Homo sapiens: one gene and its partners. The protein of the gene in region 1 purifies or fractionates together with the protein of each later gene. This does not show direct contact. Each region holds a gene or a part of one and is shown in the gene's direction. Other genes may lie near its edges.

Region 1 (3,520 bases):
GAGGAGGAGGAAAGAGACAATAAATAACAAATAATTAAATATCTAGGATATCAGACAGAGAAGAAAGGAGGGAAGGAGGATGAAGGCTACAGGGAGGGTGTGTGATTTTACATAGGGTGGCCAGGGAACATCTTGTGAAGGAGGTGACATCTGAGCAAAGAAGCACCGGCCTGAACAGATGAGGGCTTGACGGTGGGGTTATCTAGGGAAGAGCCCAGTAGGTGTTGGGGAGTGGGCTAGTTTAGGTCAGGTGGTCAGGGGAGACCTCTAGGAGGAGGCGGCACTGGAGATGAGTGTGGTAGAAATACGGGGATCTGGGAAAAGTAAGGCCAAAGCCCAGAGTGGCAAACAGCCTGGGCGTGTGTGAGGAACGGCAGTGGCTGGAAAGACCCTGTGCTCCCAGGCAGCCCAGGTGGCCCTTGATTCCTTTCAGACTGCTGTGTGGGTTCCGGGGTGGCGGGGTACTGGGCCAGGTCCCTAATCTCAGCTTGCTGCACCCCAGCTCTTCCTGCTGAGAAGTGACGTGGCTACTTGCACACCTCGGGGGTTTCCGGTCCGTGGTTAGCTCCTTCCCCTAACAGCATGGTGTTCACACAGGCTTTTAAACACCCAGCTGGCCCTGAAGACATCTAGTGGCCTGTAAATGTCAGAGCCCTGCTGCATCCATCGCTAGAAATCATTTCACTAATACTCTGTGCAGCAGGGAGGGAGGGAGGGCGAGCAGCTGGAGAGGATGTTCTCTGGGCTCTGTCTGCTCTTTGTCTCATTCCTCTGCCCAGCCCCATCCTCAGCCACGCCTGCGAGGGCCACCTCCTCTCACCTACATCCAGCGTCCTACCCCTTCAAACTCTGGGTCCCTGGCCACTCCTTCAGGATCCCACGGTCTGACCTGGGCTGGCCCACCTGGCAGCTGGGGAGGCCCAGCTGTGCCCCGTTCTTCCTCCCCTTCTGGTCAGGGCTAATCATGAGGCAGGATTATTGTCCAGCTCAGCCGGACCCAGAGGTCTGGCTGCCTGGAATCCTCGGCCTCCTGTGAGCTGCGTGGATCACAGTGACAGCAGTAATCCCCTTCTTGGAAAGAGCTTGGCCGTGTGCTGAGTGCTTTCCATCTATTATCCCCACAAATCTTCACAACAGCCCAGTGAGGGCGACCCTGTTAACCAATTGTACTGATGGAGAAACGGAGGCAGGTGATCACAGGGCCAGGATAAAGAAGCAGAGACAGAGTGTGTGCCTTTCACTCCCAAACCCCTTGCTTTCTCTTCTGAGATGGCAGCAGGGACACATCTCCTTCATCCTCTTCTCCACTTGTTTCCTGTGCTCTGGGAAGCCTTCTTGACCCCAGTTGGGCCAGGCCTTCCATTGCACATTCCCAGAGCACCTTCTCCTTCCTTCTCTGAACCTGTGCTGCAACGGTGGTCATTACAAAATCATCCTTTCTGCTGGCCTGTGAGGGCATGGAATTCCAGCATCTTGTTCACCTTGTCGCCATGTAGAAGGCTCAGTGACGTTGGCTAAATGAGTAAATGAATGACTGAAGAATAGGTGAGCTTCTGTGAAGGCCCTCCTTGCTCTGTCAGGGTGACAGGTGAGGAAACAGTCAGGACATCTCCCAGTTGGGCATCATGGGTTTGTTCATTTGTGTGTTAATTCTATATGCTGACCCCTGACAGCAGAGTGAAGGCAGGTGGGGGCCAACAATGAATCTGATAGGAGCTTACTCTCATGGGTTCCAGACAAGTTGGCCCCAGGTGGGAGCCCTGACCAGCCACTGCCAGTGAGATCAGGCTTTAGAAGAGGGTCAGAGGAGTCAGGAGCATCTTCTGCCTGGGGGACTGGAGAAGCTTCCTGGAGAAGTGATGCTTGAGCTAAGTCTTTAAGTTTGGGTGGAATTCAAGCACAGGAGCTGTGCGGAGGCAGCCCTTCAGGCAGACAAAGCTGAGGGAAGAGAGAGTGGCAGAGGGAAGGAGGAGGGATGGGAACGGGCCACTGAGCAGGCCACGTTGGCTAGAATATGAGGAGCACTTCAGATAGTTAGGGATATTAGAGATATTCCAGTTGGAAGGATGGGGTGGAATCAATCTTGTAGGGCGCTGAATGTCCCTAAGACTTTTCTTGGCGAACAGGTGCAAAGTGCAAAAGTGGCATTTTGGAGGCCTTTGAATTCTCAAACTTGAATAGAAGCCAAATTTTTGGGTGTGACCAGGAGACTTCTAACTAATTAAAGTAAAACATATTTCCCAGGGCTGGCACAGTGGCTCACGCCTGTAATCCCAGCACTTTGGGAGGCCGAGGCGGGCGGATCACAAGGTCAGGAGATTGAGACCATCCTGGCCAACATGGTGAAACCCTGTCTCTAGTAAAAATACAAAAATTAGCTGGGCATGGTGGCGTGTGCCTGTAATCCCAGCTACTCAGGAGGCTGAGGCAGAATAATCGCTTGAACCAGGGAGTCGGAGGTTGCAGTGAGCCAAGGTTGCGCCATTGCACTCCAGCCTGGTGACAGAGCAAGACTCCGTCTCAAAAAACAAAAAAAACCAAAAACATATTTCCCCGAAAATGATCAGGACTAAGATCACTGAACCTTTTCCAGAAGGTTGGGAGCTGTCTCTGAGGCAGGTGGTGCTGTTCATGTGAGCATGAACTGATTACCTGGTCCTAGGCTCATGTAGACAGTGTGGGCTTTTCCCTTTGGCACCCCAGCCCAGCAACTCCAGCCCAACAGGTCTGGCCCAGGGCTCCTGCCCTGTGGGGACAGTCTGAGGTAGAGTGACCAGCTCCTCCCAGTTTACCCAGGACCACCTGGAAAGTCTCCTGTCTTAGGAAACCACTCAATCCCAGGAAAATCAGGGCACTCGGTCACCCTCATCTGAGATCCTGTCTTGCCGGCTGGTGGGCTGTGCAGCTGGCTCACCCTGCAGGCTCTAGGCAGTTGGGAAGAGCAATATTGCTCCCAGAAGCTCCTGGTCTGATGGGAGGTGATAGAGACATCCAAATCCAAGTGACAGATGCTCACTTAGACCCTGTTACAGTTCACATGACGGACACAGAGGCTGCGTCTCTCTCCACTGCCATACACCAGCTCCCAGACCCCATCTCCTTTGTCTCCAGGACGTCTCTGCCCACTTCCCCTGGACAGACCTGCCTCGTGTTCCACCTGAACTGGCTCAGGGCTCTGCAGAACAGGCCCTGACTGGGCCTTTCCCTTCAATTGTAGTTATCTCTCCAAGATCCCAAATTTGTTCTCCCCACCCCTGCCCTGTCCCCCCACAAACCCCACAGAATTTGGGTGACTCTCTGGTGCCCTCAGCATATCAGTGATATGAGTCCAGCCTTTGTGATTTTTCCTTCTGCATCCCGCCTTGTACCTTCATTTCTTTTTTTTTCTTTTTTTCTTTTTTTTTTTTTTGAGACGGAGTCTTGCTCCGTTGCCCAGGCTGGAGTGCAGTGGCACAATCTCAGCTCACTGCAACCTCTGCCTCCCAGGTTCATGCCATTCTCCTGCCTCAGCCTCCCGAGT
Region 2 (3,520 bases), on another chromosome or scaffold:
GAGGATGGAAAAATAAATGCACATTAAAACTGTGCACTTGGCTTGGAACCCCTCCCACTTTTTACATTGGTCCACAGTGAGGAGTTGTGCCAATTTTATACCAATTTTGGTTTTAAACCACACACCTCACCCTCTCTTGTCCCCTCCTATTCTGGTCTCATGATTCTGCAGTGAAGATCCCCTTGACTTCTGGGGAATAATGGGATCCACAACCTTTCTTGCCGCCTTCACCTGAGTCCCTATTTTATTTTTAGAGACTGAGTCTCACACTGTTGCCCAGGCTAGGGTGCAGTGGCACAGTCATGGCTTACTGCAGCCTCGACCTCCTGGGCTCAAGTGATCCTCCTGTCTCAGCCTCCCAAAGCACTGGGACCACAGACAGTCCCTGTTACTGATTTCTCAGTCCCCTGCAGCTTCCTCCCTCTGCTTCTCTTTCTCCTACTCTGACCCAGGCGCGTGATTCTACTGAACTTTTCCATACTGTACCGTCATCCATCCCACCTGGCAGTCACATTCTTCCAGGATTCCCTCTGTCCCGTCTTTCTGGGAACTGGTCTTGCCCTTACAAACCTTTCTCCTTCACAGCATGTTACACTGCTTTAAAAAACTCTTTTAGAAAATCACAAAGTAATAATATCCTGTTCTCTTTTTCTTTTCTTTTCTTTTTTTTTTTTTTTTTTTTTTTAAGACAGGGTCTCTCTCTGTCACCCAGGTGGGAGTACAGTGGTACAATCATAGCTCACTACAGCCTCAACCTCCTGGCTCAAAAGATCCTCCTGCCTCAGCCTCCTGAGCAGCTGGAACTTATAGGTACACACCACCACGTCCAGATAATTTTTTTATTTTTTGTAGAGATGAGGTCTCGCTGGTCTTGAACTCCTGGGCTCAAGCGATCCTCCCGCGATCCTCCCGCCTTGGCCTCCCAAAGTGCTGGGAGTACAGGCGTGAGCCACTGTACCCAGTCCCTGTTTTCTTTCTTGCACTTCTGCCTGCCATTTTTCGCAAAGCTGTGGCTTTCGAAACTCCGGTGTTTTTTCCTCTCTTGTGCTCCTTTTTCCCTGGCAAACCCCTTCACACTGTGTGCCCGGGATCTTCCACTGACTCCTTCTGGCCCTGTCTAGTTTCCTCACTGCAAAACACACACGTGTGTATCTAAGAGGACATGTCTCCAAGGTCCAGCCAGCCATCAGATCTCAAGGCGCCTGTGACTCTGTTTTTCTCTGCTCATTGCCTTCTACCTCTCATCTGTTGAGAAGCCTTCATAGTTGCCTTCCCTCGGCACTCCAGATTCCAGCACTCTAGGGGCTAATGAAAGACTGTCCCATTTGTCACAATGGTTTCTAATCATTAAAAAGTGAGACGCCAGGGGCGGTAGCACACATCTGTAATCGCAGCACTTTGGGAAGCCAAGGCAGGAGGGTTGCCTGAGGCCAGAAGTTCTAGACCAGCCTGGCCAATATAATGAGACCCTATCTCTACATAAAATAAAAAAAATTAGCCAGGTGCAGTGGCACATGCTCGTAACCCCAGCTACTCGGAGGCTAAGGCAGGAAGATCAGTTTGGTCCAGGAGTTTGAGGCTGCAGTGAGCCATGACTGTGCCCCTGCACTCCAGCCTGGATGACAGAGCGAGACCCCGTCTCTAAGGAAAAAAGAGAGACAGTGTGCCCGCGGAGTTTAAATGAGGACATGTTGTTACTACTTTGGACAGTTACCGCGTTTTGTCATGGGCTTGTTCATTTGGGTGTGAACATATGAAGGAGGAAGGGGGTGTGGGAGCGTCTTGACCCATCGGTCACCATTGTCCACTCCATGGCCAGAATCAAGGGCCAAGAGTGCCTGAGGAGGTGATGCAGCTAGTTCTTTACATAGGTTGTATTGTTTTCTTTATTTTGAATATTGTCTTGTAATCAGAAATCATCTGGAGTGATGTTTCATTTAGTTATTCTTCAGCTGAAACCTGAGCCTTTCAGTTCTTCCTCACTTCTGAAGTAATTCAGGTTCAGAGCATATAAACATGTGTTTGCACATCCAGATACAACCCCAAGGCTTACTGAGGTTCACCTGATTCGAATATCTGGCGTGTTTCACAAGGAAAGAACCTCCTGCTGTATTTTTAAACGTGTGTGGAAAGTTTTCCATGGTAAACGGAAATCAGAGAATCAAAGAATGGTCAAAAAAACATGAATCAAAACAAAATGATGTCAATTGTGTCATGGCTATGGTTAGTCTAACCCTGAACCCAAGGAGTCATTTCAAGTAGCAGCAAGTGCCTATTTTATTAAATCCCCTGGACAGATGGACTTGGAATCCAGGCCTAAATGCTGTGTGCATCTCATTTGGGCTCTGCTTCTGAAGCGTTACCCTCCCATATAATGGATGGTCATTTGCAGAGATTTTGCACAGTCGCGATAGCACGTGGGCAGGTCTTCTCCACCGCAGCACTCAGTATTTGGGGCTGCGTGTTTCTCTGTGGTGGGGCCATCCTGGGCACTGTTGGATGTTGAGCAGCGTCCCTGGGCTCCACCCACCAGATGCCAGGAGCACCTCTCCTCCCTTAGTTGTAACAGCCAAAAAAGTCTCCAGACGTTGCCTAATGCCCCCCAAGGAGTCACAGTCACCCCCCGCCCCCGCCACGTTGAGAATTGTGCCATCAGGGATAGCACTTTCTGTCAAGAATAAATGGCCTTTTTGTCCTCAATGCCCCAATTGGGTTTGACACTCAGAACAACCATCACACTTAGTTCTTACCAACAGTTTGTCGTGTCCCCTTCCCTGCCCACCGTGGGATCCCTTCACCCCAGGCTCCAGGTCCATGCCGCTTCCCCCGTGGCCCCCTGGTTGCTGGGAGCCAGCTGTTTACGCCCCACTTCCCTGCGCTTCTCCTGCCCAGAGAGCAGAGGCCATTCCCAGAGCCCTCACCCCCGTGAGCTGACAGCTGTACCTTGGCTTGCTTCCCCAGGATGGCACAGTGTTCGACGGCCGCCCCATAGAGTCCCTGTCACTGATAGACGCCGTGATGCCCGACGTGGTGCAGACGCGGCAGCAGGCATTCCGAGAGAAGCTCGCTCAGCAGCAAGCCAGTGCGGCGGCGGCGGCGGCTGCGGCCACGGCAGCAGCGACAGCAGCCACCACGACCTCAGCCGGCGTTTCCCACCAAAATCCATCGAAGAACAGAGAGGCCACGGTGAATGGGGAAGAGAACAGAGCACATTCAGTCAGTGAGTGCAGGGGCTCTGGGAGTTCGGTGGGCCTCTCTGGGTTCATTGTTTTCTTCTTGGGCAAATCCGAATGCCTTCTTAAAAACCTGCCTGCTATAAATGTCTTAGAAGCTGCTCTCTAGTGTTTGCTTACGATCTGGCCGGAAGAACTTCCCGTTCCATTTTTTCCATCACAACCCTTGGACCTGAGCTTCTTCACCCTCATCTTCAACTTTAGGAAATCGTGCTGCGCCTGCTAATCTGAGAACTCTCATGTAACACATGATTATTGCCCGTGATAAACAAAAGTGTTTCATTCAT
Region 3 (2,950 bases), on another chromosome or scaffold:
GGTGCCTTTGTTTTCTCATGAGTTAGATGTAATTTACGAATTACTTGTTTATTTAACAAACAGGTGTTGAACGCTGTTATGTCAGGCAGCGTGCTGGGTGTGTGGAGGGTACAAAATGCAAAAAACAGTCCCTGCTATTCTAGTGTAATATACTAGAAAATAGGCACCAGTAATTATAGAATAAACACACACATTCTCCTACTTAAGCAGGTTATTGGCATTCTGAGTATCTTCCAGTTCGGAGGGTTGGGGAAGATGCCAAAGTCTTTAGTAATAAGTAAAAAAATGTGTAAAACGTGAGAATGATGACAGTTTTCTGAATTTGACAAAAACGGCAGCCCTGACAGCCTTTTTCCCTCTCCTAGCTCGGCTCTGTCCTTCACCTGCGTGTGGTACTCTGTGATCATCACAGCAGGCATGGCCTACATCTTCCTGATCCAGCTGATCAACATCAGCTACAATGTGACTGAGCGGGAAGTCCAGCAGGCCCTCCGACAGAAGACTGGGCGCCGGCTCCTCTGCGGGCTCATCGTGGACACAGGCCAGTACAATAGGGGCTTCCTGCGGAACTGGCACCAGTTCTCCACCCTGGGCACACGTGCATTCCACCACCCTGCCGAGGACATTGTCTGAAGTGCCTTCTATGTGGCTCTCTGAGGGATGATGGCTCCTCCTTCCGTCTCCCTTCCATTTTACACTTCAGTGTCCATTTCTATCCCCAGTTTCTTAAAGGCATTATAGGGCCATGCTCAGGTTTAGAGACTGGAGTGGGAAGAAGTTAATTTTTCTGACGCCACAACTTAAGAGACTTTTATACTGAGGCAGTAAAAGTAGAGCCATTCCTTTCCAGTCACCTTTTTAATTGACTCAGTTGCCTGAACTTGAGAAGGATGTGGATTGCTAATGCACAAATTGATAGAAGCAATTCCCATCCATTAGTATGGAGGAAAGAGTGTTGGATTAGGATAGTTTCTAGTCCCTCTTTCGATTCTTAATAGCCATGTGACCCCTAGCTGAGTCACTTTCCCAAGTCTCAGGGTCATCTGCAAAGTGGGGTACTGATGCCTGCCCTGGCTACCTCACAGAGCCGTCATGAGGGTCACGTGAGGGAAGATGGATGTGGAAAGCACTAAAAAACAACTCAAGAGCCATGGAAATACAAAGTATTAGGAAAATATTATGATGGAAGAAAAACGTTTATAGTCTAGAATATTGAAGCCAATATTATTAGGGTAATCAGTTTTCAGCATATACCTTGTTGTACAGTTATGAGAATTTCTCCTTCTTATTAGACATGAACTACTCAAACAGAGAAGATGACCAGATGGATTGATGCTAAGTTGTCTCATCTTGAAAAGACAGTTGACAACAGTTATAAAGATAATTATTGCTAGTGTAATGTAGTGTGGCCATGAGTTTAGGTGATGAGTTCTTCTATTTATATTTTATAAATTCTGCTTGGGTTTCTTATAAATAACTCCAACAGGCATTCATGTGTTTTTCCTCTTCCCATGTTTCACCAGGTAAGGTGCTAGCACACTTGTGACTGTGGCTGGAAGAGGAGAACAGACACTCCTGTGGGGATGCTTTACTCTCTTTTCTGGTAGGAAGGCTGAGTAACATCACGGGCTCGATTATTTTCTTCATGTATTTCAAATGCTGTCAGTTATAGCACTAAATTGTGAAAATCAGCCTTCTGGCATTCACATTATTCTGGTATGAACTTTGAGGAGTTGAGTGACATCTTCCCACTTAACTTGCACATTAATTCTCAATTACCCCTCCCTAAATAACAGTATCTCACTAAGAGAGAAGAAACAGGGTATATGTGGTTTCCACTATTAATGGATTACTGTTCTTCCCTGGCTCTTCCGACAATAACAAGTTGTTTCTTTAATCATATCTTAAAACCGAAAATGTATAAAAGATTAAATATTTATGTACAATGGGTTGTTCTACTATAGAATTAAGATGAGGGAATTTCAGATGAGGAAAATACCCTTTTGAAATGTTAGTTTTGAACATGTACTGTTGTGCAATCCCAAAGATAATTCATGACTCCTTAAATTTGCCTTGGCTTATAGCTTAATATAGGGAAAATATTGCCAGCGTTTTCAGTCATTCTGTGCATGCTGCTTTAAGCAAGAGATTTATATTTGTTGAGAGGAAATATTGCTACTTCCTGCACTTCCACCCTCTGCAGCCAGCACCGTCCCTACTGTTGCCATTAATTGGAGCTGTCCTTAAGATGGTCACCATATTCTTATTCAGGCTGTTGTCATTTTCCCCAGAGATGGTTTGTTTAACGAATGATAGGCTCTGTGCCTGGGGATGTTAGCAGACTCTGGGGTTTGTACAGTGATGCCTTCTCCCTGGCCCAGAGCTGAATATTCATCTAGAATTAAAGTTGGATTTGATATAACAAATTTCTTTCTATACAGGTTTTACATAAGAGAGACAGTAATAATGTCAAGGATAGCCTGTGTGGGCAGAAATTGGTAGTCGTGCTTTTGAATGTCAGCTGTAGAGCCAACTCTGATTATCTAGCCATTGATCATACAAATTGATAGAAACATTAGTCAGTAATTTTAGCTTCTTGCCAAATTGTTCACAACATCTAAATGTAATGTGATGTGATGAAGATAAGTAGTACAAAGAGACCAAAATAATTTGGGAGAATTAGGAATGATGACAATTTTTTTTAACAACTTACCTCTAATAGGGTTACTTGGATGAGCCAACTCCGCTTCCTTCCCATGGATAGGAAGGGACTCTGTGTATTATTCAGGTTTATTGGCACGAAGATACTTGTTTTAAGTTCCTTGAGAACCCATGATGGACAGTTGACAGAATGCTTAAACCTGTCAAAAGATGAGTGATCTTGTGTGGGAAAAGCCTTCCCAGGCGTCTGTACCGAAAGGAGCAGCAAACAAGGGGCTAATCCATGAGC
Region 4 (3,520 bases), on another chromosome or scaffold:
AGCCCTTTCCTCCCCTTAGCAGTGTAGAATTCTAGGCATAGGAATCATGGATTTGTTTTTAACAGTAGTTATTAAAATATGCTAGAATAAGAGTGATTTTGAAATTAAGATAATCCTATGTGGTTATCTCTTGATATATGACCCAAATTTAATGTAGCTTGAAAAAGGAACCACCTGCAAAATGGGCTCACTAACTACATCTGAATAAAGGGAAGTATGTTGGCAAAATAATTTATTAAGCACATACTATATTATAGACTGTGCTACAGTACATTATTAAGTCATTTAATCCTCACAAGTATTGCCACCATTTGGTAGACAAGGCACCTGAGGCTAAGAGATAATTTGTCCAAGATGTCACAGCAAAAATGTAGCAGAGTTCAGAACTTAAACCAATGTGCTATAATGGGTATATTTTATTTTCAGAAAATACAAAACTAGATTTCCTTAAAATGTAGTCTGAGCTATAACAGATTCTATTTTATGTTACACGTGTGTAGAAGAGCATTTATAGAGGCCACATTACTAAAATGGGGAACTTCATAGCATTCTGTTTTGTAACCAGCATCATACTTAATCTTCTGAGTTGAAAGGAGTGTCACACATAAACTTGATTTTTGATTTGGGTAGAACATGCTTATTTGGTTTCAGATAAGCCTGGTCGAATGTTAGTTTGTGTGTGCTAGTAAAATAACCAGTTAATTATTTTGGTAGACATAGGCCCCACTTAAAGTTGATGGTAGTTCTTCCCTGTTCATGATTGCTCCTGGTATATGCTCCACAGTTGGCTTATGAAGGACAAATGTATACATAAACCAATACTGTGGTTGAGGGTATCTTGAATAAGGAACTAAAACAGGTCAACGTATGTTGGAAAAAGGGGGAGAATTATTGGTTGTTTTTTCCCTTGGTGTTTTCTGAGCAGGCAAGAGGTGGCCTCAGAAATAATGTTGGACACCTTATAGTTTTAAGGTAATGTTAATAAAATCATAACTAGAGCCTGTGCTAGCCAGGGACAGTGGTGAATGTGACAAAGGAATGGACAGTGTTAATTTGGGTTAGGTTGTGTCTGTGGGTGTTAAAATGTCTTCACTTATCTTCACTAGGAAACCTTATGTGTTTCTTATCCAATGAACACTTGGTCAGATAACCCTCATAACCATAACCCTTGTTTGAAGGTCAGTGAGCTTGCAAACTTCTGCTGTAGTGTTTGGACATTTTAAAAACTGTTTACTTAAAAATAACTTGTTGATATCTTAATTCTAAATGAAATAAAATTGGTTGTTCCTGCCCCCAAATATAACCATTTTTAAAGAATCCCCACTGAATTCCTCACATTATATAGATTTAACAGTGTTTTGGCGAGATCATTGAATAGGTTAATGTTTTAAATCTTAGAGATAATTAATATGAACAGATTGCTTAATTTATATACTTTGAATAAATTAAGGTATGTTGGATGTGTTTGAGTACCTTCCCCAAGTAAACATTGTTGGTTAATAGAATATTCACCTAAATGGTGGTGGAAATAATATTCTCAAAGCACTGAATTTCACATTCTTTTTTTTTTTCCCTCACTATCGTTGAAGGGCTGGTTGTAGCTAAAATGATACATTGTGGTCTTTGATACAAATACCTGAACCATTTAAAGTTCAGGCTCATAAAGAAGACTTTTTTTGTCCTCTATTCTGGCTCTTTCCATGCCTCCCTTCCCCCAAACTGTTGGTTAGACAAATTAATAGGCCACATGAGGACTGGGCACGTTGACTCACACCTGTAATCCCAGCACTTTGGGAGGCCAAGGTGGGTGGATCACTTGAGGTCAGGAGTTCAAGACCAGCCTAGCCAACATGGTGAAACCCTGTCTCTACTAAAAATACAAAAATGAGCTGGGTGTGGTGGCTTGCACCTGTAATCCCAGCTACTCGGGAGGCTGAGGCAGGAGAAATGCTTGAACCTTGGAGGCGTAGGTTGCAGTGAGCCGGGATTCCGCCACTGCACTCCAGCCTGGGCAACAGAGTGAAACTCTGTCTCAAAAATAATAGGGGCCCAGGCCGGGCGTGGTGGCTCACGCCTGTAATCCTAGCACTTTGGGAGGCCAAGGCAGGTGGATCACCTGAGGTCAGGAGTTTGAGACCAGCCTGACCAACATGGAGAAACCCTGTCTACTAAAAATACAAAATTAGCCAGGCATGGTGGTGCATGCCTGTAATCTCAGCTACTAGGGAGGCTGAGGCAGGAGAATCGCTTGAACCTGGGAGGTGGAGGTTGCGGTGAGCCGAGATTGCGCCATTGCACTCCAGCCTGGGCAACAAGAGCAAAACTCAGTCTCAGAAAAAAAAAAAATAATAATAATAATAGGGGCCTGGTGCGGTGGCTCACGCCTGTAATCCCAGCACTTTGGGAGGCCAAGGTGGGCAGGTCACAAGGTCAGGAGATCGAGACCATCCTGGCTAACACAGTGAAACCCTGTCTCTACTAAAAATACTAGCCAGGCATGGTGGCGGGCACCTGTAGTCCCAGCTACTCGGGAGGCTGAGGCAGGAGAATGGCTTGAACCCGGGAGGCGGAGCTTGCAGTGAGCCGAGATTGCGCCACTGCACTCCAGCCTGGGCGACAGAGCAAGATTCCATCTCAAAAAAAATAATAATAACAATAATAATAAATAAAGACCACATGAGAAAAAAGTCAAGAACTAGACTATTTTAAGTTTTGTGAGAAGAGATGAATATAGAACAAACAACTACAGACTTCTCACTCTTTCCAAATTTTGGTTTCCACATGTGTAACTATGGACATTAATCTTGGATTAGGTGGTAACAGTTGAGATAATATGGGTTAAAATACTTAACACCACATTTGCCACATAGAGAGTGCTCTGTAATGTTAGCTCTTTCCTTTTGTATATACAAACATTGATTCTGTAGAGATACCCTAATGGAGAACTGTATTATTAAAAGATCAGGATACAGATGCCACAGGTCTGAACTATGAGAAAGAGGAGAAATAGATGAGAGAGAAAAGAGGTAGTAAAGGGAAGAGGACAGAGTATATATGTTAGAAAGGATGTGGTGGTGGTCCTTAGTTTCCTCCAAGTATGTAGGCTGCCTGCTTCAACTCAGAACTAGTCCTAACAGCCGTTGTATCTGGCATGGTGTTCTATGCACTGTGAACCTAATGAACAATTACTCCCTTTGAATTTCAAGTCTTGACAGACCTCCTATTGTAATAGCAGATATACTTATGCTTCCAGGGAAGGAAGGCTTACTCTGGACATATTGCAAGGTAAGCAAGAGTACATAATTAGAGTATCATTTAAGGCAGAGTGCTGTGTAGGTTATAGGTCTCTCCCATCCTCCACACCAGTTGGACCCTTTCTTCACAGGGCTCGTTTTCTTTGAACTTGAGATTGAGGATCGGCCCAGTACAGCACCACCCCCTGTCCTGGGATGGTACTTCATTGTTAAAAAAGTTAGTGTCAGCTTTGCAGCAGGGCTATAAATGGTCTTCGATCCTATTT
Region 5 (3,520 bases), on another chromosome or scaffold:
AGGTAGGAACTTACTCATTTTTACATTCTCTCAGTGCCTATCATGCTCTTTCTGAATGGATTTTTGTTAAGTGATTGAATACAAGATAGAGAAACCTGGTTCAAGAGGGAAGCCTGGAACAGATTATGAATGAAGAAATGGAATTCGAGTGTAAATTCTGTATTCCATCATGATCCGAGTAAACCAGGTTCTCTCTTTAGGTCAGGTCACAGAACAATACACCTTAAGACCCTGAGAAGTCAGATGGGAATATTTGCTTGGGTTTAAGAGTGAGGATGGTAGAATGTAGCCTGGTGGCCTGGAATGCAGAGAGAGAATCCTGGGTACCGTGGTTGTGTAGACACCATGTAAGTGAGATCCAGAGTAACAGCTGGCGAGACTTCCGTGGCCGTGTTGCTGGGGGGCCCGAGGCACTGTGCGATGCACGGGAAGCATAGGACGTGGCCTTTGCCTGCGATGTGAAGGGAGATGCATAATGTGGAATGGTTAGAACCAAGCGCCTGAATGTGCCCATCCGAGCGCATGTCCTGGGAGTCTGGTGAGGAAGCGATTGTGGAAATGGGACTCAGCATAGGTGGGCTTTGGAGAGCTGGGGAGTGTAGAGAAGGGGGTGCTCTGAGCTGTCCCAGAGCAGGGCAAAGACCCAGGACGGGCAGGGTTTGTTCTGGAGGATGCTGAGGAGACAGGGCTGTTGGATGAACGCTCAGGAGCAGCAGAGGAGGGGCCTCCATCTCCCTTCCGAGTGCGGGCCTCTCATGAAACACTAGGATGCTTTCGCCAGTGCCTTGGAGGAACTTGCCAGGTAGGGCCCCAGGGCCAGAGATTCTTGTGGTTCTTCCTGTATAAGAGTTGAAGAAGTGCAACTGCTAAGTGTGCTGTGAAGTGTGTGAGGAGCCATCCTTTGTGTTCACTGTATTCTCTGTCTCTGAGGAATCCGTTTTCTGAGTAACTTATGTGCCCATGGTCTGTGGTGCCAGTTGTGCACTCACAAGCATAACACAGGCTGTGTGCTCCAAGGGAGCCTTTGCTTTGGGAAGGGTGTGGGCTTCCAGAGACCTTGGGGCTGGCTCTTTGACGGATGGAGAATGTCAGGAAGCACCTGGGTCCTTCTGTGAGTTTTCTGGCGACCTCGATTGCCACACGGCGAATTTTGATAGCGTATGCACTGGAGCTTTGTAGCCTAGGGCAGTGGCATCCAAAGAGCTTCCAGGAGACTTTCTGAGTTGGCACCTTAGATCTGAACTCTCTTGACTAAAACACTTGCATTTCCTTCTAACCACTTGGCAGAAGTAAGTGATTGTAATCCCTGGTGTGGATGGGATGGGGCTGGCTGTATCCTCACAGATCTCACTCACAGATTGCAGGCCCTTCTCTCTTCTTCTTGTCTCAGTGAAGCACTATCCAAGGCCCTGAAAACTGAGCCAGTCTGGTCATTGGTGGCCGGCAGAGTGGTGGATAGGGCCAGGTGTATTAGGAAAAAGAAAAAGAAATCTCTTTATTTAATCCATTGTGAGACACTAAGAAACCATCTGTGTTTCAGCTTCTGTCCTCCCCCTTCCCCCCCAGTTGCTCTCTTTACTTTCTTCTTGTTATCATGTGTAGGGGTGAAAGTGGCCAGATATGAGAGTAAGAGTTCCCATTTATCCAAGGACAGAAGCAGGCAGGAACCTCAGGATCTGATGTGGGCAAGCCGCAGGTAAAGGGCAGGTTCAAGGCGCAGAATACAGGTAGATGATTCTCTCTGATATCTGCCTGCATCTTCATGTGGCTGTCTTCTCTGTCTCTGCGCTGGGGGTGCACCTCTTCTCACAAGGACTTCAGTCATGTTGGATTAGGGCCAAGCCTGTTGATCCCATCTTCTCTTGATTGCATCTGCAAACACCCTAATAAGGTCACATTCATAAGCATCAGGGGTTAGGAGTTCAATATATCCTTTGGGGGAGACATGATTCAACACACACGTGTGCGCACACACACAAACACACACATACACATGCATCAATACACACAACACATATATATGTACCAGTATCAGGCATAGTGTTTGTTTGTGTTTGGATGTGTTAGCATATGTTTGGCCAGCAACATAGCACTTACTAACAAGGACTTAAACAGCTTTCTGTTTCCTTAATAGCAAGGCACTGAAGGTAGGTGCTTGCTTCCAGGTGCTGGTGCAGCGGCTTGGGATGTTACTGAGAGCCAGGTTCTCTCTTCTTTCACTTTGCCATCCTCAGCATGTTTTCCTTTGCCCCATCATGCAAAAGGGCTGGCCACAGCTGCGCCACATCTGTGTTGAAGGCAGTGAGAGAGGAGGGGGAGTTGGTGTCAGCTGCATCTGTCCGTTTTTGTCAAGAAGCGACAAGCTTTTCCAAAAGTTTGGTGGCTGACTCTGTTCAGGGCCCAGTGCCAGAGCTGGGCTGCGTGGCCGGCTCCTGGAGAAAGAGAAGGAGAGAAAATGAGGGTCTGCCTGGGAGGTGGTCCTGGAGGACTGGACTGGTAACACATGCGAGAGAACTGCCCCGTGCAGGGGTTGGCCGTGCTAGGCCTTGATAAAACTGCCTTTCCCTCTCTTACCTGCTCTTCCTGGCAAAGCAGGAGCCCATATGGATTAGGCCCAGAGCCATATGCATGCGGCTTCAAGGTTGCAGGTGTGGGGCTATGCACACCTGTGTGTTCCATCAATAGGTTCGGTGTGGGTACAGTGTGGGCTGGGAATCCCAGTCCTGTCCTGGTTGTCTTTGTACCCCTCTAGCACTCGGCACACAGGCTTCTCATAGGAGGCGCTCAATAAATATTTGTTGAAATGAATCTGCGTCTTTTCCCTTCAAAGACATTTGAGTCCAGAAACAGCCACATTCATTCACTATAATATTCATGAATATCTTACTCTTTATTTCTATTGTTGTTGTTGTTTATTTACTTTTGTTCTTTAATCCATCATTTGGCAAAAACTACTTGGTACCAGGGATTCAAAGACACATTGAGGACTATATAGTGAAGGTGAGGACTTGCAGAGAGGAAGGGATGGGGCAGAGCGGGGGTGCCCTTTCTGAAACAAGGGAGAGTTTACCGTTCTGGAGTCCACATGGCAGGGATTCATCTCTTAAACTTGCGGTACTTTGTTGAGTCCAGTTTCACTGTAGTAAAAACAACCAGAACACATAGTAAGCCCTGTTGGTCCCGTGAGATTGCCTGCTCTTCACGTCTCCTGTTTGTGAAATAGCACAGGATTTTAGGTGCAGGGTTTTTCATATGCCGAATAAATATTTGTGTAGCCTTCACTCTAGGCCAGGTACTGTGCTGTCAACTGTGAAAGCCTGAGTAAGACTCAGAAGGATGTGTTTGCAGCTCCTCCTGAAAGGAATGCACAATTTCTGCCTGCTGATTGGCCGAGGGAAGCATTTCTTATCTGTTAATACTTTAATCACTCCTGGGACTCTCTCCCTTTGGCCTGCAGCTCTGCTTCCTTGACAGTGACCTTGTTTTTTTTCTGTCCCTGGCCATGTGCAGTGGATCCAGC

What was found.
Region 2: the proteins of ZDHHC18 (region 1) and TBL1X purify together in Homo sapiens (affinity purification with mass spectrometry, with the first as the bait; one large-scale study listed by BioGRID). This does not show direct contact.
Region 3: the proteins of ZDHHC18 (region 1) and ZDHHC23 purify together in Homo sapiens (affinity purification with western blotting; one study listed by BioGRID). This does not show direct contact.
Region 4: the proteins of ZDHHC18 (region 1) and ETF1 purify together in Homo sapiens (affinity purification with mass spectrometry, with the first as the bait; one large-scale study listed by BioGRID). This does not show direct contact.
Region 5: the proteins of ZDHHC18 (region 1) and RNF144A purify together in Homo sapiens (affinity purification with western blotting; one study listed by BioGRID). This does not show direct contact.

Annotation. Positions count from the first base shown.
Region 1 is NC_000001.11:26,833,178-26,836,697, forward strand, and holds part of ZDHHC18 (palmitoyltransferase ZDHHC18), read left to right. Parts: intron 1-3,520. UniProt on the Homo sapiens protein: Palmitoyltransferase that catalyzes the addition of palmitate onto various protein substrates, such as CGAS, HRAS and LCK. Acts as a negative regulator of the cGAS-STING pathway be mediating palmitoylation and inactivation of CGAS.
Region 2 is NC_000023.11:9,685,056-9,688,575, forward strand, and holds part of TBL1X (F-box-like/WD repeat-containing protein TBL1X), read left to right. Parts: intron 1-2,961; coding exon 2,962-3,220; intron 3,221-3,520. UniProt on the Homo sapiens protein: F-box-like protein involved in the recruitment of the ubiquitin/19S proteasome complex to nuclear receptor-regulated transcription units. Plays an essential role in transcription activation mediated by nuclear receptors.
Region 3 is NC_000003.12:113,957,998-113,960,947, forward strand, and holds part of ZDHHC23 (palmitoyltransferase ZDHHC23), read left to right. Parts: intron 1-365; coding exon 366-633; 3' UTR 634-1,523; coding exon of another isoform or gene 1,524-1,546; 3' UTR 1,547-2,722; coding exon of another isoform or gene 2,723-2,736; 3' UTR 2,737-2,950. UniProt on the Homo sapiens protein: Palmitoyltransferase that could catalyze the addition of palmitate onto various protein substrates and be involved in a variety of cellular processes.
Region 4 is NC_000005.10:138,536,722-138,540,241, reverse strand, and holds part of ETF1 (eukaryotic peptide chain release factor subunit 1), read left to right. Parts: intron 1-3,520. UniProt on the Homo sapiens protein: Component of the eRF1-eRF3-GTP ternary complex, a ternary complex that mediates translation termination in response to the termination codons. The eRF1-eRF3-GTP complex binds to a stop codon in the ribosomal A-site.
Region 5 is NC_000002.12:6,923,903-6,927,422, forward strand, and holds part of RNF144A (E3 ubiquitin-protein ligase RNF144A), read left to right. Parts: intron 1-3,520. UniProt on the Homo sapiens protein: E3 ubiquitin-protein ligase which accepts ubiquitin from E2 ubiquitin-conjugating enzymes UBE2L3 and UBE2L6 in the form of a thioester and then directly transfers the ubiquitin to targeted substrates.